Regions from separate parts of the Homo sapiens genome. Here region 2 is linked to region 1. The links come from fine-mapping of genetic effects on gene expression. A gene starts in region 1. The other region holds a variant in brackets. All regions are shown on one strand. Distances are from middle to middle.

Region 1 (11,765 bases):
TAGGTGATCTTTCCTTGCTTACATCTCCTTCATTCTAAACATCTGCCTATTTTATAAGGAAGATGCAATTGCTTCTAAAATGAGGTTGTCTCCATTAACTCGACCCACAGAAAAGCCATTTAAAATTCAAATTCATACTTAACATTCTTCCATCAGGAAATACATGGTAACTAGCCCTGGATCAATCTCAGTCAAGTCCCAATCTGGAAGAGGAGCATAAACATTTAATTTTTAAGGTCAGGGTCCGTGCTTAAGAAACTGACAATATAAGCACAACTAAAATGCAAAGTAGCTCAGCTGACACGCTAAGATGCCAAGTCAATCTAATGGAGAAAAACAAACAAAAAAGAGATGTGTTCTGTTTTGTCTTGAGACAGGGTCTTACTCTGGCCCTCAGGCTGGAGTGCAGTGGCATGATAACAACTCACTGTAGCCTCCACCTCCCTCAGATGATCCTCCTGCCTCAGCCCCCCAAGTAGCTGGGATTATAGGTGCATGCCAGTACTTCCGGCTAATTTTTGTATTTTTAGTAGAAATGTGGTTTTGTCATGTTGCCCAGACTGGTCTCAAACTCCTGGGCTCAAATGATCTGCCTGCCTTGGTCTCCCAAAGCGCTGGGATTACAGGTGTGAGCCACTGTGCCTGGCCGAGAAAGGGAAGTTTTTCTTAAACCTATGTTGCTGGAACAACTAGATATCTATATAGGTGGAAAATGAACCCAAACTCCTATCTTATATCATAACACAATAATAATTACTTTGAGATCAATCACAGACTCAAATGAAAAACTTAGAAAAATAAAGTTTCTAGAAGAAAAAGCTTTCTTTGCAATCCTGGGCACTGGTAAAAATTTATTGGTCAGGACAAAAAACACTAGCCATAATACAAAAAATTGATAAAACAGACTTTATAAAAATTAAAAATTTCTGCTCATCACAATATCATTGAGAAAGTAGACAAGGGACAGACTGTATAAAAAAAAACTGTCAACACATCTATCTCTATATGTGACAAAGAACTTGTACCTTGAATATATAAAGAGCTCCTACAAACAATAAAAAGATGAATGACCCAATGAAAGACTAGGTAAGACTTGAACAAACAATTCACAAAAAAAGATACTGCATAGCCAATTAACATATGATAAAGCACTCAACATTCTTAATCATCAGAAAAATGTAAATTAAAACCATAATGAGGTACAACCATACATCCTGTAGTGTGACTAAAATTGAAAAGGCTGACAATACTAAACATTGGCAACACTAAAAATACGGAGCAAGTAGAACTCAGTATAAACCACTTTGGAGAACTGTTTGGCAGATTTTTAATAAAGTTAAACATACACATACCCTATGACTCAGTAACTCTGCTCCTAGGTATTTATCAAGAAACTTGTAAAAGTATGTTCATAACAATCTTATTCCAAATATCCATCAAGGAGAAAATATAAATTGGGGTACATTCATACAATGGAATACTATTCAACAACTTAAAAGGACAAACCACTGATACTTGCCAACAACATAGATGAATCTTTCTTACATGAAAGAAGCCAAACACAAAAAAAGCACATGCTGTATGATTCCATTTATGTGAAGTCCAAGACCAGTCAAAAAATCTCTGTAGTGTCAGAAATCTATGGAGTCAGGAAGTGATTGCCTTTGGAGGAAGGTGGGTGAGGGAACTTTCTAGGGTGACTTAAAAAAAATGTTTTCTATCTGATTTTGGTAGAAGTTACAGTGTATACAATTGTCAGAACTCCTTGAACTGGATATTATGTGCATTTTATTGAATGTTAATTATACATCAATAAAAATACAAAGTAGCAATGTGCTTCAAGATACAGACTAACAATTTTGTTTCAAATGAAATTCAAGACTACACAAATGCATCTTCAGTTACACAGCATTTTCAATCATGTGCCATTCTGATTTATTCACACTTCTATTCTTTGATCATTGTAAATAAGCTAATGGATTACAGACACATATAGATAACAGAATGTATGTTCACATACATAATTTTTTATAAACACCAAATTAAATTTGATTGTTTACAATTTAAATAAGCACTTAATGGACCAGTTATAGGCCCAGTAGAATATTCTATTGTCTATACCATTTTTCTCTCCATATATTTGTGATTTTAAAGGATCTGACATAAAACTGCATGTAAATCAAATGTCAGCAAGGACTATCAATGACCAAGGGATGATAGCGCTTTAGCCACACGGCCTAGAGAATAATGCCCTCCTCATCTACTCTAATCGAGAGAGCTCATGCATATTAAAGAGCAACTGAAAAGTGTGAAGAGTAGTTTGCCAGCTACAACACAGCCTAAATATCAGTATACATCAGACTGACACCAGAAAACCTTACTAAAAGCCTTTTTTTCCTCTACTGTTTACTGGATCCTCCTCTTTATCTTTCTCCCTCCCTCTATCCAGGTATACTTTTATCCGCAAAGCCTCTCATCCTCCCTGTGATATTGCTCAGATATAATTGATTTTCTCTTTTGTTTTAGTTTTTGAGACAGGGTCTTGCTATGTTGCCCAGGCTGTCCTGGAACTTTTGGGCTCAAGTGGTACTCCTGCCTCAGTCTCCCAAGTGGCTGGTACCACAGAAGCGTGCCACCACATCCGGTTCTAATTATGTTCATGTATCTGGCTCATCTCAGGTTCCAAATAAAATAAATTTACAGAATTCCACTATACTCTATGTAGATATGTCACATACATTCAAACAGTATAGACAGTATAGCCTGGGGAAAGAGATGACCAGTGAATGGAAAAAAATATTGACTTTAGTTGTTCCCCACTCCTGCAACTGGAAAATATCTCTCCTGAATATCTACCACGTTTTTATTCCCTACAGGTGGCTCTTACAAGTGCTGTGGACTATACATAAGTATATCTGCCTAATCCCAAAGAGAATAAGGTCCTAGACAGGAACCATGTCATTCATATATATATATATATATATATATATATAATTTTTTTTCTTTTTTTAGAGAGACAGGGTCTTACTCTGTCACGCAGGCTGGAGTGCAGTGGCACAATCATTGTCTCTCACTGTAACCTCAAACTCCTGGGCTCAAGCAATCCTCCTGCCTCAGCCTCCTGAGTAGCTAGGACTACAGGCATCACCACTACACCTGGCTAATCTATTTTATTTTGTAGAGACAGGGTCTTGCTATGTTGCCCAGGCTGATTTCAAACACCTGGGTTCAAGCAATCCTCCTACCTTGGCCTCCCAAAGTGCTGGGATTACAGGTGTGAGCCACCAGGCCCGGCCCTGGCCTCATGTCTTATACATATTCACCAGGAGCCTGAAACATTGCTTTGTACAGAATACAGAATGGGGCAAGACACATACTTGAATTCATGAATTGCCAAATTAATGTGAATGAAAACAATTAAGGAAGGAAGAGGAGGAGAGAAAAAAAAAGCAAAGAGAAAAAAGAAAAACTAGCAAAGAGAAAGGAAAAGGAAAGAAGGAGAAAAACTTATGATGACAATTGTTCTTGTTAGAGTTCATAGGACTACAGTATTTTAAAAAACTGAGAGTTGAAAAAGCCATCAATTATGTATCTAATATCAGTTATCAGTACCAGTATTTAAATTGCTATTAAAAACACCTGAAAATACCTCTAAAATTACCTCCCCACACTTGACATTCAAAGTATGGTCTCTGACAGCATCACCCATCAGACATACAGACTTTGGACTCTACTTCAAACCTAGAATATCCTGAATGAATTATGCATGCTAAAGTGTTTGAAAAGACTGCCCTCCACCATTCAGGGCCTTTCTGTTGTACCAAACCTGTTTTGTTTCAATGGGCCAGTAATTAAGACACGAAAAATCTTTGAATGGGATTTGACCTGTACCTATTTAATTTCAGATGAAGTTATTAATTACAATGTAGGTTGGCATATTGGATATACCACAAAATTTAGGAATTAATCATAAAAAATATGATTAAATAAAATTGAGCAGTAGGTCTACAGCATTCTCAAGAACTCATGTTTGCTCTTTCTCATGTCTATCATAGGACTTGGAATGCATATCGCCAGTGTTTCCTGAATGAGCAAAATAAATGAACTTTTAAAAACGAGAGATATTTAGGGGCAGAATAATCTTGGGGGTCATCTGGTCCAACAACCTAATTTTAAAGATCAGCAAACTACAATTTCTGAGAGTTGCAAAAGCAAAGAAAGCTCAAAGAATTAAAATATATTGGGACATTTTAATTCGTTTTGTTCCTTTCGTAGGAATGTGTAAGAAAGGGGACTGTAACTATTATGATTGCTGACTCTTAAAGGTGAAAAGGTGCCTAGGAAGAAGAAACTAGCAAGAGTAAATGAGACTTGGCAAAGCTATTTTTCCAAGCCTAATATATTTTTGACGGGCCAATTAATCAATTTAATCTGCCAAAAAAATTAATCTGAAGGTTTCTCAGAAAAGGAGAGGAGACATGAGCTGCATGAAAATGTTACAAACCAAGGGAGGCTGCACATAACTAACTTAAATCTCCACAGGCTTATTTCCTGTTGAAGTATGGCCTCCTGGGGTAAGTTTTACTGCAGTGTTCATTGCCAGATGACTTTTGGTTTTAACAGAGGCCAAGGGCAAGTTGGAAATGCGATTCTTAACTAAACATTAAAAAGAAAAAAAGAAACTGTGGCTGTTTCCCATTTCTGTTTGTAATCAGAATGCAGGCTTGCGGAGGAAACACACCATCCCCCGCAAGCAAAAATATAACGACACAGTCACGTCCTCAAAACAAACTAACACACAAACTTCCCAGCCGGATCCAGCTGTGCTGCCTGGGAGCTAGGAACTTAATTCTAAGAGCAGACAGATCAAACCGGTGAATGCAAGGGCAGCCACATTTCAATCACAAAAAGGGTGTGCCCTAAGTTTTGGCTCCCCCACTCCGCCGCCCCACTTTCAACAAGCCGAAGCCTTTGAAGGAGGCTCGGTGCCATCTCGGTGTGATCGCGTCCCGGCGACGCTGGGTAGGGTGCAGGGAGCCAGCTCGGCCGCGGCTCAGCGGGAGGGGAGGGGGCCGGTCCCGAACCCGGGCGCCCGGGCCGCGGGTGATTCACTGGGAACGCCAGGTTCGCGCGCCTAGACCGGCGGGCGACGCCCAGCGCGCCCCACGTCCCCCGCCCGGGCCGTTCGCGCAGAAGCAGCCCCCGCGCACCCCTGCTCCCCGAGACGGACCCGTCGGGAAGGAGCCTGGAGTCGGGCGGCCGGCGGGCAGCAACCTCTCCCTCCTCAGCCACCATGGCCGGTGCGACTCCCTACCCGCGCCCGCAGACGGACTTCCTGGAAAGCACCGGGCTGGGCTTACCTGACTGGCGCCCGCAGGGGCCGCCGACCTCTTCACAGACCCACGGAAACTGCCGGCCGCAAGCCGAGGCTCGGTTCCCAGCACCCGCCGGTCCGCCCGCGTCGGCCTCCCAAAGAGTTGCCAGACCCACCCGCCAGCAGCTCCCTCACTCGACCGCCCTGTAGGTGCGGTGGGTTCCTCCTTCGCCTCCGACGCGCGTGCGCACTCCCGTGCCGCGGGGCATCCTGGGAGTTGTAGTTCTAGCAAGAAGGGCGAGGCTCAACGCTGACCCTGGTCTTTACAATGGGCAGAACGTAGGAAGGGGACTGCGAATACCAACCCTTATCCCAGTCTAAGATAATGTTCTCTACCCGTGGAAGTACCTACTATGGACTTCCCCGAAGCTGGAAATAGTATCTAGAGGCTCTTTGGTATAGATTTCCTTTTTACTTTGACCTTTTGTAAAGAAGCGCACATGGCAGGGCTTGCATTGTAGCCTTGGTTGTTAATGCGAGGACATGACATTGGGGCCTTTAAACTGGTCATGACAGAGTTATAGAAAAGTAAAGGAATAAAATCTAAAGCCCAAGAGAGGCATAAATCATGCGAATGTCACCTCCAGGGTGTGGTGACCTTAGTGGTTTTCTTAGGTATGCGTTTCGGGGATGATGTAGCTATTGCAGGGCAGTTTCTGCCCATCCTATCTTCCCTTTCCATCTTCAAGCTCTACACCAGGCGGTGGGGCTGGCTGCTGTAGTGGGAGAAAAAACAGAATAGGCTGCTCAAGGGGGGGATTGGGGCAGATGGGTAGTCTAGAGGGAAGAGGAAGAGTGTGGGAATCTCTCAGAGGACTGTTTGACAGTGGCCTATGTAATGGCTACCTTTTGTGCGAGGCTCTGAGGAGAGGGAACTGCGACATTTTTCCATTTATTCATTTAGTCACTTACTGGGAATTTTCCTGGCCTGCTCTTCAGGAGTAGACCATCCCCAGGAATAATGCTAAACTTTGACACACCTTTCAAAAATGCAGCCAAAGAAGTGGACTGACGTGCCTGCTTGAGGTACATTCCAGCTACACCCAGTGTGCGAGCCACTTCATGGTTTAAACCTCTCCTGGCATCTACTTCTTCCCCTCAGAGGAGGGAGGACCCTAGGTTAGATAAACATCCTGGAATTTCATGCAACTGGCACCCACTAATTTCAGCAATGGAGATCACTGATGGTTTAGGTTTTTAAGGGAAAAAAACCCTTCTTTTTTTTTTTCCAAGACAGAGTCTTGTTCTGCCGCCCAGGCTAAAGTGCAGTGGTGTGATCTCGGCTCACTGCAACCTCTGCCTCCCAGGTTTAAGTGATTCTCTTGTCTCAGCCTCCCAAGTAGCTGGGATTACAGGCACGTGCCACCACACCCAGCTAATTTTTGTAGTCCTAGTAGAGATGGGTTTTCACCATGTTGGCCATTCTGGTCTTGAACTCTTGACCTCATGATCTGCCCACCTTGGCCTCCCAAAGTGCTGGGATTACAGGCGTGAGCCACCGTGCTTGGCCAGGAAAAAACCCTTCTCAATTGCAAATACTTAGAGGACAGTCAACACTCAATCTTGTGGCCATTGCATTTTATTTTCTATACCATCTTTGGGTCAATCTCTTGGAGATAACAGCTTTCTGAGAGCAATTTCCTACAGAATTCAGGTTCATAAGAATGTTTATACTTATAATACATACCAACCACTGGGCCAGCACTTCATTTGTAATATCTCATCTAATCCTCAAAACTAATCTAGTCCTCAAAACTCTATAAAGAATAAACTGGTATCCTCCATTTCTATAGATAAGAAAATGAAGACTCAGAAAAGTTAAGTAATTTGTATAAGGTCCCAGAGCCAGTAATTGGAGATCCAGAGATGAGACACAGTTCTCTTGAGTCAAATTCTAATGTGATTTCCACTGCTGATCAGACTGATGTGTCTCCTAAATCTCATCAATTTTTTTTTTTTTGAGACAATCTCATTCTGTCACCCAGGCTGTAGTGAAGTGGTGCTATCATGGCTCGCTGCAGCCGTGACCTCCTGGGCTCAAGCAATCCTCCAACCTCAGCCTCCTGAGTAGCCTGAGCAGCTGGGACTACAAGCATATGCCACCACACCCAACTAATTTTTTTAATTTTTTTTTTTTTGTAGAGACAGGGTCTCCCTATGTTGCCCAGGCTGGTCTTGAACTCCTGGGCTCAAGGGACCCTCCCACCGTGGCCTCCCAAAGTACTGAAATTATAGACATGCAACACCATACCCAGCTGATATGGTTTATTTTAAGAAGGACTTTCCTCTGCAATATGGCTTCTTTTGCTTTGGTCAGAGAGACTTTTTAATTCAGTGTCTGACTGACTTAATCTATTACACTTTTCCTCTCTCACCTTCCAATATGGGCTGTTAGGCATATATTAAATATATTTTCGCTATTCATTTCAAATTTTTCCTAACGAATGTATACATCTTATTTTAGTTCCTTTTTCTAAAATAATGCAGTTTGATGGTGGATTTTTTCCTTTCTTCAGGCATACATTATCATATTTTTATCACAAAGCTTATAAACATGAATCTCTTAAATCCGTGTACATTAAATACCACATATGGGGCCAGAGATGTTAAGAGTAATACCTTAGTATTGGATAGCACTGAAGAGGTAGAACCTTCCTCACTTCTTCCACTCCTTTGCTATAACACATTCGCTATATTAGCAGCCAGAATGACTTTTTTTTTTTTGAGACGGAGTCTCTGTCTGTCGCCCAGGCTGGAGTGCAGTGGCGTGATCTCTGCTCACTGCAACCTCTGCCTCCGGGGTTCAAGCAATTCTGCCTGCCTCAGCCTCCCTAGTAGCTGAGATTACAGGCCCCCCACCCCACCACACCCAGCTAATTTTTGTATTTTTTTAGTAGAGACGGGGTTTCGCCATGTTGACTAGGCTGGTCTTGAACTCCTGACCTCAGGTGATCTGCCCACTTTGGTCTCCCAAAGTGCTGGGATTACACGCGTGAGCTACCACTCCCAGCCCAGAATGATCTTTTAAAAACAAATCAGATCATATCACCATCTTGCTCCAAACCGTTCATGGCTTCCATCACATTTAGAATAAAATCCATAATTAACACCTCTACAAATCTGTATATGATTGTTTTGTTTCCTACCACATATTCTCTCTGATACTGCTCTAGTCATACTGGCCTCCCTGAGGTTTCTTAATCCTGCCAAGTTTCTCCCCATCTCAGAGTCTTTATGCTGTGCAGGAGAATGATTTTCCTCCCAGATGCTTCTAGCTCATGCCCTCATTTTAATGAAGGTTCTGCTCACATGTTACCTCTGAAAGTCTTCCTCTTACCACCTTACCCTGCCATTCTCTCCTTTCTTTACTTGTCGTCATAGCACTTTTACCACATAGCTTCATATTGCTTGTTTCCTTAGTGGAAGCTCAACAAGCTTTGCTTTGTTTACTCCTCCATCCCTAGCATCTACAATACTGCCTGCACACAGAAAGTATTCAATAAATATTTGTAAATAAATGAATGTTGGGTTCTTCCCTCTCTCTCCTACTCTCCTCTTGGGACACAGACCCAGAAGGTTCACCTGTAAATGCCAGCCAGTGACCTGATTTGGATGTAAACACCAGCTGCAAGAGGGTTGACTACACAGGAGAATAAGATCCTGTGAAAGTCCTGAAATAGAGACAGAGCTCTCTTTTAAAAAGGCTATAATTTAGGGTTGCCACTATTCCCTTAGAGTTGGAAACATAATTCTTGGAGGAAAACAAACAGGAAAAACATGGAAATTAGATTTACATAAATAAGTGAAAAGGTAAGTCCACTAAATACCTGTGGTAGATTGAAATATTGTTCCCACATATTTGCTCTCCTTTAGAGGAATAGACAGGCTTGCCCACTACTATGTGACTTCCAGTGCTGCCCCGCAGGCATTCCAGGCTTGGCTATGATCCCATGATGGGATTTTCCTCCTCTCTTCGGTTAAATGTCATATTGTAATCACAAAGTTTAGAAACATGAATCTTGCTTTGGTCAATAAAATATAAGTGGAAGGGACAATCCGACAGTTCTGGGTGGAAGCTTTAAGAGTCACTGCCTTTCTCTACTAGTGTGCCTGCTCTTTCCCTCCACCAAGAGAGACAAGTTCTGAATAGAGGCTGGTCCTTCTGCCTGGGTTCTAGAATAAGAAATTACATGGATCAGAGCCTCAGCCACTAGCTGACATAATATATAATGTGAGCGAAGGGGAAACTGAGGTTTAGGTTCGTTTGTTACTATAGACTTACTTAGCAAAAGCTGACTACTATAGTGCCTAATCAAAGAAACATGATGATCTGAACTAGAAGTGGTATGGCACCCCCAACCGTCTGCATTTAACCCACTTCAAGTAATGGAAAACTGTTGAAGTTCAACAGGCTAACACACTACAGAGAACAAATCTGAGGCCTTCAGGTAAAATATTTGAACAAGGGACAGAGTATGGTTCCCATTAGTGTTCAGGGTTTGGTTAGAGTGAAAGTGATTGATAAAATGACACTTCAACTCTACTTTATGTGTTAATATTACAAGCTCTAATTAGTGTTATCTCTAAACTTCCAGCCAGAATAACTCAGAAAGCATGTCACACTGAATCATCGTATGCTAATTAATAACAGCAGCACTTTTCTTGTTATCAAAGAGTTCCTTTAGGAAATAGTTACTTTGGTATATGTAAGCATATTTTGTGTGTATGTAAAAACGTGTATTTATAGGAGAGCTGAGAAAAACTAAAGACAAAAATTTGAAATGAAAAGGGAAGGATTTCATTATGGAAGCTTGGAGGTAGGAATCCTATGGAAGCAGTGGGAGGTAGCAATCACAGAAGACAAACATCATGGCTGGGTACATACCGGTTTTTTTTTTTTTTTTTTTTTTGAGATGGAGTCTCTCTCTGTCACCCAGGCTGGAGTGCAGTGGCGTGATCTTGGCTCACTGCAAGCTCCACCTCCCGGGTTCACACCATTCTCCTGCCTCAGCCTCCCAAGTAGCTGGGATTCCAGGTGTGCACAACCATGCCTGGCTAATTTTTGTATTTTTAGTAGAGACGGGGTTTCACCATGTTGGCCAGGCTGGTCTCAAACTCGTGACCTCAGGTGATCTGCCTTCCTTGACCTCCCAAAGTGCTGGGATTACAGGCATGAGCCACCACGCCTGTGTGCATACAGTTTTACAGGAAAGATTCAAGCACACTTTTTGGCCTCAAGTGCCCCTTTTTCTATAACCCATCTCTGCCTGTTAGAAGCCTCCTCATGTTTCATTGTCCATCTCAAATGTCTGTTCCCCACTCAACCTTCACTAATGCCATCAGCTGGAATTAATTTTGCCTTTCCCATATTTTCATACCCCATTATGCCTCCATTAGAAGTGCACTGAATACACATTTCAGCCAAATGCCAAAAGGGCCAAAAAATAAGTCACTCTTCAGCTGAAGCCAAAGTTGATGACAAACATCACTATTAAAGAATAAACTTCTGGGATATGCACATAAACCTAAAATATTATCCCCAAATTTTAATACTATTTTAATAATATTAAAAATGTTAGTGCTAAAACTGTTCAGTTTAACATTTACTATAGAAGCAATAAATTCCCAGTGCTGTCCATTGTTAGACTCTCCTACAGTCACTGCAGAAAGCCAAATTTCAGCTCAGGTGAGTGAATGAATATGATCCCTGTCATAAATGGAATTAAATAAGAATTAAATTCAGGTCTTTAAATGATAAATGCTAGATGCCCCAAACCCTTCTACCAAGACCAGAGTTGTGATATGATTTAACTTCTGCTTACTTTTCCTTGTCTTTATTTATTTTTATTTATTATTATTATTTGTTTTTGAGACAGAGTCTCACTCTGTCGCCCAGGCTGGAGTGCAATGGCACGATCTTGGCTCACTGCAACCTCCACCTCCTGGGTTCAAGCGATTCTCCTGCCTCAGCCTCCTGAGTAGCTGGGACTACAGACGTGCACCACCACACCTGACTTATTTTTGTATTTTTAGTAGAGACAGGGTTTTGCCATGTTGGCCAGGCTGATCTTAAACTCCTGACCTCAAGTGATCCTCCAACCTCGGCCTCCCAAAGTGCTGGGATTACAGGTGTGAGCCACCGCGCCTGGCCTCCTTGTATTATTTGAATTTTTTATAAACATTTATTGGCTTGAAAACAATGTATTGTTTTTTCTAGGTTATCTAGCCAATGGATTCCTTCTTGATATTTGTAGTGATTGTCAGCTTATTTTCCTATTTGCTTAAAAGTCTTAAATAATTGTTTCTTTTTGTCTTTTACTAAATTCTTATTGATACATTATAATTGTACATATGCATGGGAGTACATGTGATATTTTGCTACATGATACAA
Region 2 (11,765 bases), 44 kb before region 1:
TCTCTTTTGCTCTGATACCAAGTTACAGCTGCAACAAATGTTAAGAATTATCTTAGTCATAGCTCCCACCCTTGCTGAGTATATAAAAAATATAATAACAAGAAACAGAGGTGGCTCTTGGTTACTTCATTCCTACAGAGTTGAAAGGCCCTAGCTAACTTTACTGTTTGTTTATAAACTGCCTTGTTCCAGAAAAGATTGAAGGACACTACTCCACTATAATCTCCAAGAGGCTTTGTGATATGTTGTTTGACAAGCAGCACAAAAACCTCAAACCAATCAAACTAAAGAATGAGGGGACACAGCCTAGAAAGACATTTTTGTTTTGATCCAATGATACACACAACACCTGCTTGATGCTGCAACATGGTCACCAATAAATGCTTAGTTAACAAATGTTTAGTGAGTTTGTATATACTAGACAATGAACTAGAAAGACACCATAAGGAAAACAAAACAAGAGATCCTTCACTTTTGGGAGTTAATACTTTAACAGGGAAATAGAACAGCAACTGAATCCTATTCTGGAGGTTCCTATGTCAAGATGGGGTAATAAGGACAGAATTTACCCACATGCCTGAAACAATTAAAATGGACAAAATATATGAAACAAGTTTTACACACACACACACACACACACACACACACATATATTTTAAAGAGATGGTTCTTGTTATGTTGGCCAGGTTGGTCTTGAACTCTTTGGCCTCAAGCAATCCTCCTGCCTCAGCCTCCCAAAGGGCTTGGATTACAGGCATGAGTTACCATACCTGGCCAGAAACAACAGTTTTCAAGACACTGGCCATCAGGCAACAAAGGACAGTGATCCCTATGATATGGGAAAAACAGAGGTGAGCCCTGTGATTACCTAGCTTATTGTCTGGAGAAAGGTTCCAGGCTGCAGATCAGGGAGCAGAAATTCAGGCAGAGCCTGGTGAATGCTGAGCTGCAGACACAGCTGAGGTCCAGAAAAACCAAGGCAGCCAGTGTTTGAAGGATAGGGAACCAGAAAGGAGGGAACTGCACAGAGAGGGAGCCCAGGAGTTGTGCAGAGGGTCACACTGAGTGTTCAGCATAGCACCGACTGGTACATGTATGTGAGGAACTACCTTGAGCCAAGGGAAAAAAAAAAACTTCTGAAAGCTTAGAGGTAATAATGCCCATGTTCATGCAGAGCTGGGAATAGAACCTGTTCCCACCAGCCAGACTGGAAAAGCTCACAATTCACAAGGCTCACAATTGGGTAGGGAACTCAGAAGGGTCTTGCCTCAGTATTGGGGAAATAATTAGCCCTAGACTGAACACTGCTCTAGTCCCACCTAACACATCTTTTTTTTTTTTTTTTAAGACAGAGTTTTGCTCTCGTTGCCCAGGCTAGAGTGCAGTGGTGCAATCTCGGCTCACTGCAACCTCCGTCTTCCGGTTTCAAGAGATTCTCCTGTCTCAGCCTCCCTAGTAGCTGGGATTACAGGCGCCCGCCACCACACCCAGCTAATTTTTTTGTATTTTTAGTAGAGATGGGGTTTCACCATGTTGGTCAGGCTGGTATCGAACTGCTGACCTCGTGATCCACCTGCCTCGGCCTCCCAAAATGTTGGGATTACAGGCGTGAGCCACCGTGCCTGGCCCACCTAACAAATCTTAAAAGCAAGACTCCAAAGAATCAAACTGTTTCCAAGTAACTTAACTGCACCCCAGAATGAAACTCAAGAATATTTATAGGTATATCAATACATCCAGCACTGGAAAGTTAATATGTTTGATACCCAATAAACAATTACAAACATGCAAAGAAACAGGAAAATTTGATCCAGAAGAAGAAAAAAAATCGGTCTATCAAAATTGACTTAACAATGATAGATGATAAAATTGGCAAGTAAGGACATTAAAAATTACTATAATTATATTACATATGTTCAAAAAGTGAAGTAGAGGCATAGAAGACTTTTTCTTTATTTTTTTTGAGACAGAGTCTCGCTCTGATGCCAAGGGTGGAGTGCAGTGGCATGAGCATGGATCACTGCAGCAATGAACTCGTAGGCTCAAGCCATCCTCCCACCTCAGCCTCCGGAGTAACTGGAACTACAGGCACACACCACCGCATCCAGCTAACTTTTTTTCATTTTTAGTAGAGGCACGGTCTCACTGTGTTGCCCAAGCTGGTCTGCAACTCCTGACCTCAAGTGATCCTCCCGCAGTGCCGCAATTACAGGTGTGAGCCATCATGCCTGGACGGAAGATTTTTTTTTTTAAAAAAAGCGCTGGGGCCGGGTGCGGTGGCTCATGCCTGTAATCCCAGCACTTTGGGAGGCTGAGGCAGGTGGATCACGAGGTCAGGAGATTGAGACCATCCTGGCTAACACGGTGAAACCCCGTCTCTACTAAAAATACAAAAAATTAGCCGGGCGAGGTGGCAGGTGCCTGTAGTCCCAGCTACTCGGGAGGCTGAGGCAGGAGAATGGCATGAACCCAGGGGGTGGAGCCTGCAGTGAGCCGAGATCACACCACTGCACTCCAGCCTGGGAAACAGAGCGAGACTCCATCTCAAAAAAAAAAAAAAAGCGCTGGGTGCACTGTCTCACACCTGTAATCCCAGGTACTCAGGGGGCTGAGGTGGGTGGAAGGATTGCTTGAGGCCAAGCATTTGAGAACAACATAGCAAGACCCGCCTCTAAAAAGAATTTTAAAAATTAGCCAGGTGTGGTAGCACATGCCTGTAGTCTCAACTACTTAGGAGGGTGAGGCAGAAGAATCACCTGAGCCCAAGAGTTTGAGGCTGCAGTGAGCTGTGATCATGCCACCGCTCTCCAGTCTGGACAACAGAGCAAGACCCTGTCTCTTACAAACAACAACAACAACAACAACAACATCAAAGAACAGACAGGACAAATAGAAAAGATATACCATGACATCTAATCAAAATAAAGAAAGATAGGCTCTATTAACATCAGGCAAAGTAGGTTTTATAGCAAAGAATATTACCAGAGATAAAGGTCATTTCATTATAACAAAAGGGACAATTCATCAAGGGGACATAACAATCCTAAAAACAAGTAGCAACAAAGCCTCAGAGTACAAGATTCTGAAACAACTAAAAGCAGTACTTTAGGCCGGGCACGGTGGCTCACACCTGTAATCCCAGCACTTTGGGAGGCCAAGGTGGGTGGATCACGAGGTCAGGAGATGGCGAACATCCTGGCTAACACAGTGAAACCCTGTCTCTACTAAAAATACAAAAAAAAATTAGCTGGGCATGGTGGCGGCTGCCTGTAGTCCCAGTTACTTGGGAGGCTGAGGCAGGTGAATGGCATGAACCCAGGAGGTGGAACTTGCAGTGAACCGAGATCGCGCCACTGCACTCCAGCCTGGGCGACAGAGCAAGACTCTGTCTCAGGAAAAAAAAAAAAAAAAAAAGGCAGTACTTTACGGTATGTAAATCATATGGAGAAATGCTGGAGGAAAGGAACTATCCAGAGTGGGTGTAGTTATCCAGGAAATGTTCCCCATGAAACCGGTTAACATGAGTAACAAGCCGTCCATCTGGCTAACTCCTCACCCCAAGGGAGTTAACAGTGAATCATTCAAATGATATTGCATGACCGGTCTGAAAAGGAGATGCCAGCATCTGCATGACTAATGTAAATAGCCCATTTCAAATATCAGCTTCAGTGCCTGGGAAGACCACTTTTCAGAGGTCTACAAGGGACATTTAGGGTTCATACAATATGATTACAAAAATAAGAGCCAGTTTTTACCTTTGGACTTAGCGGAAACCAATTGCCCAGTGGTGGTTATGTAATCCTCTTGATGTAGGCAGGTTTATAATCATGATCTTTCTGGTTTACTAAGGGATCAGGTCTGTCTTTCCTCCAAAGAAATCACATACTCAGAAAGGTGAGAAAGAGGAGGTTTTCTGGAAAGCTAACATAACTGTGAATAAATAACTTGGACAGCATATGGGAAGTCCTTAGTTTAAGGCAACTGGGTTAAATTTACCTTTAAAAAAGCAGGGAGGGGCATGTGGAATTCTTGGGAAAGAACAAAAGGGCATTCCATTCTCAGGATAGGAAAAGAGAAAACAACCAAAAAGCATAAATGGCTGTACCCCAAGGCCCAGCAGGAAGAAAAGGAGTGCGGTGCAAGGCAGGGAGGAGCCCATACCGGGTGAGTCAGCAGCTCAAACAGAATCAGAATGCACATCTCTGTATAGGATATAAGGTGCAGCCATGGCTCTGGTCCATCCGTGAAATAACACAGGGAAAAAAAATTCTTAGTCTAGGTAAGGGCGGAGCATGATACCAGCAATAGAGAGGAGGAGTCCCCAGCAAAACAAAACAAAATGACAGGTAGTAAAAAATACTGAAGACTGGGACACAGTATTTCTTCAAGTGATAAATTCATGACAAGGTTCTATGCCTTATCTATCTTTGAGACAGAATATGCATGCTATGTAAAAATATGATGGGAACTAATAATCAGCACTGAGAATTTTCACCATTCTCCAAACGAGAACAAGCTGGATGAATACTCTCTTTCACTCCTGTGCTGGCCTATGTCTCAGTTATACATTCTGCAAAATTTTAAGGAGGAAGAGGTAAAAAGTAAAATATTCACCAGTATAGGACAAAATACTCCCCTAAATGCATGTAAGACATAAGGCCTTGAGCTTCACTTAATTAGGATTACTTTCTTCTTTTCATATATTGACATATGCTTTCAATTCTGTAAAACATATAATCATTTCACAAATCATGAGGTGAAATTATTAATGGATTTACATATAATAACTCTTAAGTGTCCTCAGTCTATCAGGTTTCTAAAAAACATTTTTTAGCAATCTAGAAAATAAAATTTGGCATGAATATTTACTTTTATATTGGTCAAAAGGAAAAACTAAATGTGAAATTTTTGGTTTTATGAGGATTCCCTCCTGTCCTGGCCAGTTATGTGTAATTCTGGCTCCAGAAACAGAGTCTGCCTTTAAGTGAAAAAATAAGAAGTATAATTAATTGTCAGTCTCAGAATATAAGAAAATAGTCTAATGACTAGGTAAGTAATCCTTTTAGTGGTTCCCAAGTTTTTGCTTTTGAAAAAATTAAGCAGTCGGCCAGGTGCAGTGGCTCCACCTGTAATCCCAGCACTTTGGGAGGCCAAGGCAGACAGATCACCTGAGGTCAGGAGTTCGAGACCAGCCTGACCAACATGGTGAAACCCCGTCTCTACTAAAAATACAAAAATTAGCCAGGTGTGGTGGCAGGCCACTGCACTCCGGCCTGGGTAACAGAGTGAGATTCCATCTCCAAAAAAAAAAAAAATTAAGCAGTCATCTGATAGATCCTTTAAAATAATTAATTTACGATGAGAGCTCACTATGTGATTTTGGCATATAATTTGGAAAGAGTTCAAGGAACTGAATGACACTGCTACAACATTCCCTGGTCAGAAGGCTAATATTGCCATTAGGTACTGCACCCTGAGGCCAGTCATCTTTGAATGAAAAAATCATTTAGAGACCAAGAGAACATCTTATGGATTCTAACTAATCTAAATGTACCAAAAAAGTAAAATGCCTTTGTTTCTCAATAGAGGTAGGTTTGCAAACTTTTATGAAGAGCCAGGAAAACCTCTATTGCCTGGGAAAGCATCCTCAATCTGAAAGTCTATCTCCACTAAAATAAGCTATTAAGTAAAAAATCTGAGACTCAACCCAGGTGTTCAGGGCAGAGTCATAGGAGAGCTATCTTTAAAAAACAAGCTTCTGGATTTTTGGAGCTACAGAGATTAACATTTAGGTTGATGGGAAGTATTCTAATAAGACATAGATGAATTACTCTGAGGACCTTCTGGAACGTGATCAGGATCCTGGAGATGAGATGAAGAGAGAGGAAGGCATATTCGTGACTAAGGATAACTAAGGCTAACTGCTTTAAAGATGAGAGTCTAGGGTGGATTTCAGAACATTAGAGGTGGCTTTTTGCTATATTTCAAAGCAGAGCTTTACAGCCAAAGTTGCTTGATTGTTGAAGAGGAATTTGCCCTCCTTCAGGTCCATGGTACTGTGACATGGCTTATAAGGCTTGATTCTACCACATCTGATAGTATGTGCTTCCATCAGATAGATTAATGAAACTCACAAATTCATCCCATGGTTGTTCTGGACCGCTCCTCCATGACAGAGAATGAAAATCTCTTGTTCGGTAATCATCTCCCATATGATCCTTTACAGTGATTTCAGTGTACCCATTAATAAATCTGGTCCTCAGGTGGGTGTGGGGGCATGTGCCTGTAGTCCTAGCTACTCTAGAGGCTAAGGTGGAAGAATCGTTTGAGCCCAGGAGTCCCAGGTTGCAGTGCCACTGCATTCCAGCCTGGGCAACAAGAGAGTGAGTCCTCATCTCTAAAAACCAAACCAAAAAAAAAAAAAA[C/AC]AAATTTGGTCCTCACAAAAAATATATGACATAGGCATGCCAGATGCCCGGAATGTATGTTTCCATCGATATAAAGTTCAAAACAGACAGAACTAACTATTGTATTAGACACTATGTTGGTAATTACCTTTCACAAGAAAGGGAAAAGTGACTGGGAAGGAGCATGATAGGGCCTTCAGTGGGTGCTGATGTTACCTTTTTTTTTTTGAGACAGGGTCTCGACTCTGTCGCCCAGGCTGGAGTACAGTAGAGCAACCTCGGCTCACTGCAATCTCCGCCTCCTGAGTTCAAGGGATTCCCCTACCTCAGCCTCCTGAGTAGCTAGGATTACAGGTGCATGCCACCATGCCCAGCTATTTTGTATTTTTAGTAGAGACGGGGTTTCACCATGTTGGCCAGGCTGGTCTCGAGCTCCTGACCTCAAGAGATCCGCCTGCCTCGGCCTCCCAAAATGCTGGGATTACAGGCGTTGAGCTACCGCGTCCGGCTGCTGATGTTATCGTTACCTGAATGGTAATTACATGGTGTGTTTATTTTATAATTCACTGAGCTACATACAGATGACCTGTGCATTTTCTTTGAGTAACAAAAAGTTCATTATTAAAAAAAAGCTATCATCTTAATCACTGCATCAGAGCTGCCCATAAACAATATTTAATAGACATATGTAGCTAAAAGAGGCAGTAAAAATACCGAATGTATTATAAAGAGAAACCACTGATTGTGAATGTAAAATTACTTGTTCAACTACTTCCATTTATTCTTACCCATCTAAAACCTAAAGTAAGAAGTAAAAATTTTAAAAGATACATAGGAGGACAAAGATATTCTACCATAGTTGAGGATACAGCACTTTTTCCTATGTCACCCATATTCCTCACCTCTATCCTTTTCCCCCTCTTGTATTTTCTTATTTTCCGTAATTCTTCTCTGCTTTCTTTCCTATTTCCTCTAATCCTCCAAGATATTTTCCTAGGTAACTGGAGATTATGAAACAAGGGCATATTAGGAAGCTTCCGGGGTTAGCCTGGGACAAATGCAGCTTTCTTTCAGGTCTCTTATTTTTTCTCCTTCTTATCCTCAAATTCCATAGTTTTTTTCTGACATCTCTTTTTCTCACATCTCTCGCTTTGTTTCTACCTCCATTCCTTTCCAAATTATACCCCCAGGGTCCACCTGAAACACGCAGAATAACAGAAGGTGATCAACCAGTATTTTTTCTCATAAAATTATGTTCTTCTATTTAAGCAGGATTAAAGCCATAAACACTGACATACGTATGGCTGCACAGAGAAAATATAACCAGTAGTTTTCTTTGACAAATAAAAAGGAAGAGATGCCTCTGCCTGTCTTTATGATTCTCCACACTTCAAAACTCTGCATTGGTTTTGAACTCTTTTTCTGGCCCCAAACACCTGAGGGACATGACATTCCCACCTGTAACAGTAGCGTGATGGTTAGTTTTATGTGTCAATTTGGCTGGGCTGTGGTGCCCAGCTATTTTCTCAAACATTGTTCTAAACGTTTTCATGAAGGTTTTTTGTTTTTTGCTTTTTTTTTGGATGAGATTAAAATTTAAATCAGCAGACTCTAAGTAAAGCCAATTAACCTCCATAATGTGGGTGGGCCTCATTTAATCAGTTGAAGGCCTTAAAAGAACAAAGATTTATCTCCCCAAAGTAGGAAGAAATTCTGCCACTAGACTGCCTTTGGACAAGAATAGTAAATCTTCCCTGGGTCTCCAGGCTGCTAGATTTTGAATTTAAAAAGCCTCCTTAAAATAAACTTTTCTCTCCCCTCACATCCTGTTGGTTCTGTCTCTCTGGAGAACCCTGACTAACTTAAATAACAAAGATAGTGATCCTTAACAAGAGATGAAGAGGAAGAGGACTCTAAAGAAAAAGCACAGGGGCTGGGGTGATGGATAATTTTAGAAAAGTCAGGTGCAGAGCTTACGGCTTACCTACTCAATAGCCATTCACAAGCCTTCCTCTACTATAGAAGCTGGAGTGCTAAAATGAACTTTCTTGCTTCCCTTGCAGCTAAGGGGTAGCCATGTGACACAGTTCTGGCCAAAATGATTGAGAAGGGCCTCTTTCTCAAATAAAAAGCCCAAGTCCCATTCTTCCTGCCTGGACTAATATGAATTCAGACATAAAAATGGTGCCTGCAAGAGCTGATCTTCAGCTCTGCTACTGCTGCCACCATTCCCCAGTATTCTATACACAGTATTCCAAGTAAGAGTGAACGTAGAATTTGGCTTTTTAGGCCAACCTGTATTCTGACCTGTTTGGAAAGCTGAAAAACTTATCCTGTTTCATTTAAGTATTATTATATATAGAACTTTTAAAAACACAGCTGTGGCTGGGTGCAGTGGCTCATGCCTGTAATCCCAGCACTTTAGGAGGCCTAGGTGGGTGGATCACTTGAGGTCAGGAGTTCGAGACCAGCCTGGCCAACACTGTGAAACCCCATCTCTACTAAAAATACAAAAATTAGCCAGACGTGCTGGTGTGCACCTGTAATCCCAGCTACTAAGGAGGCTGAGACAGGAGAATCGCTTAAACCCGGGAGGCGGAGGTTGCAGTGAGGCGAGGGTGCACCATTGCACTCCGGCCTGGGCAACAGAGCAAGACTCCATCTCAAACAAACAAACAAACAAACAAAAAAACAACCACAGCCGTACTCAGGCTCCACTGAGAATACATAAGCTCAAACACTTAAATGGGGGAGACTTGGACTAGAAAAATTTCCTAAAACTACTGATTATGAAGCATTAGCAATCATAACCATGAATTAATAATGATGGGTATAGAATAGCTTTTTAAAAGGGTCTTTGAAAATATGGCATGAATTGTTTTATGGCATTCCACTTTAAAGAATGCAGTTAGAATAGATGCCTTAACATCATTTGTACTCTGTAATCTACCACTGAATTTTAAGTTTCCTTCAATATACTTTTAGATCTGTTATAGTAGAGAATTAAAGAATGTTATTCAAAATCATTGTGTAATAAAACCTCACTAACATCATTAAGAAGAAACTTATTGACCAAGTTGATGAAAAATGTAAATAAAGTATCTAAACCAATAAATGTCTAAGTCAACAGTATCATATATTTAAGGCTACCAATGATGTACCTCTAAAAATATGATTTTCTCCACACCCACCTATAAAAAGAAAAATCAAGTGTTACCACATAATGACTTTAAAATTCTGGGGCTTACCTTTTTTTTCTCCAGTGTAGGGCACATAGTCTTCCCTGTCTTTATGCTCCAATGCTTCTTTCTCCAGATATGAAAGGAGATGCTCTCTATCAAATGGCCCTGTGGTGGACTTTGATGTCTGGTTCTTCTGCCGGAACCCTGCAGGCAGAAGGGCATTCTGCCAGAGAGAATGAATCAGCCAATATGACCAATAAGAATGCTAATGCTATATGCTTCCGAAGATTACCCATATAAAAAAGAATTACAGACTGGAATGTGATACAGGCACTAAACACTTCATTGCAGGATTTTAGGACAGCAATGTACAATTGCTCCAAACATTAAACTTCTTTTTTATTAGGTAGAATTCACTTACATTATTATTAAAATAGGCACATACATTAGTACAGTTTCTTTTCTTTTTGGAGACAGTCTCCTTCTATCCCCAAAGCTGGAGTGCAGTGGCATGATCTCAGCTCACTGCAACCTCTGCCTCCTGGGTTCAAGTGATTATCATGCCTCAGACTCCCAAGTAGCTGGGATTACAGGCGCCTGCCACCACGCCCAGCTAATTTTTGCGTTTTGGGTAGAGATGGGGTTTTGCCATGTTGGCCAGACTAGTCTAGAATTCCTGACTTCAGATGATCTGCCCTCCTCGGCTGCCCAAAGTGTTGGGATTACAGGTGTGAGCCACCGCGCCCAGCATACGTTTTCTAATAGAACATTTTCTTCAGAGAGGATTCTACTAGCAGAAAACAATCTTTAGTTTTTAAGTGTTCTGGGATACTAATAAAAAAGTTTTATTAACCACATACCACATCTTCTTACTTACATAAGTGGGAGTCAATGATGAGAACACACGGACATATAGAGCACACATATAGAGCTAAGTGATGAGAACACAAGGACATATAAAGCACACATATTGGAGCATAGAGGAGGGTGGAGGGTGGGAGGAGGTAGAGGATCAGGAAAAATAACTAACAGGTATTAGTGATGAAATAATCTGTACAACAAACCCCCATGACACAAGTTTACCTACGTAATGAAACCTGCACAGGTATCCCTGAACTTAAAACGTTTTTTTTAAAAAGTTTTATTAATGCTTAATAACTGCTCAGTGTATATATATGTACAGAGAATAATTCTATTACAAAAGAGTTTTAAATGACTCTGTACATTATATTCCTTCATGACTTCCATTTCATTGTACAGACTTCTTCATGATTACAACATATATACCATACAGTAGGATATCAGATTAATGTTTACTTCAGTTTAAACACAACGTGAGATGTTCCACTTGTGTGTGTATGCGTACATATATACATGACCACTAGGATGTACTTGCTACAATCACTATCATTGTTTCACATGCCCCAAGGGACCCCTGACATACTCACAGCAAGAGCTATGTTCCTGGGTTTCCACACGGGTACAGCCTTTTTGAGCGCATGGACTGACTTAGAGATGAGGGAGGTGCAGTGGAAGGTGATGGATTAAAGTTGTCTCCTGTAGTCCCTTAATTTTCACTAAGCCCAGTAAACACAAGGGCTGACTAGACAAAGTGAGTACCGTCCTTTCACTTGTCAAAAGCCAAAGAGGTGATACTGCCTTGTCTCATATTTCTGGGTATATCTTTGCTTTGAAAATGGGAGGCAGCCAGAGAAATCACACAAAAGGGCCAGCTCTCTTTTGCAAAACCTCCCAATATTGGCAGTGACGCTGAATTTCATGGGTGGTATAAGACAATTTTTCATTATAAAGGGTAATCTTATATGGGCAATAGTAATAGAAAATATTCAATTTGTAACTAGGAAATACAGCACTTCAACTGTGGTCATTTGTTGAGACACATAATAATTTTCATAAAATTCACTTCTGTGTTACCCTTTATGTAATGGTACCTACTACACAGAAAGCTGAACTGTAAAGACGAAACATTCCTAACTTTGTACCAAGTATGTTTCTGTAATACAAAATTGTTTATGGAAACATAAAAAAGAAACATAAGATTTCTACCTTTAGACTTAGAAATCATGAGAGGAATTACACATGAAGAATCCATTTCCAATTGACCTGCAAGTCCTACTCATTTTTACTTCCTGAAGAACTCATTCATCTTTTTCCCATC

Which allele goes with the higher level. Positions count from the first base shown, and alleles are read on the strand shown. Sizes are in standard deviations (SD) of each study's normalised expression.
With allele AC in place of C in region 2, the expression in monocytes after LPS of the gene that starts at base 5,544 in region 1 is lower (large effect, 0.86 SD a copy in Quach 2016).

What was found. PIP is the estimated chance that this variant, and not a neighbour inherited with it, causes the effect.
Region 2: its variant is fine-mapped to the expression of TMOD3 in monocytes after LPS (Quach 2016, PIP 0.95).

Annotation. Positions count from the first base shown.
Region 1 is chr15:51,823,432-51,835,196 of GRCh38, reverse strand. It overlaps TMOD3 (tropomodulin 3), which reads right to left and starts at 5,544. Exons shown (of 10, transcript NM_014547.5): 1 at 5,361-5,544. RefSeq lists silencers at 4,985-5,264, 5,485-5,639.
Region 2 is chr15:51,867,261-51,879,025 of GRCh38, reverse strand. It overlaps TMOD3 (tropomodulin 3), which reads right to left. Exons shown (of 10, transcript NM_014547.5): 3 at 9,653-9,809. Among named protein-coding and RNA genes, the nearest start is that of TMOD3, 43 kb to the right of the region's middle. The variant C/AC (reference allele first, on the strand shown) is at 6,426.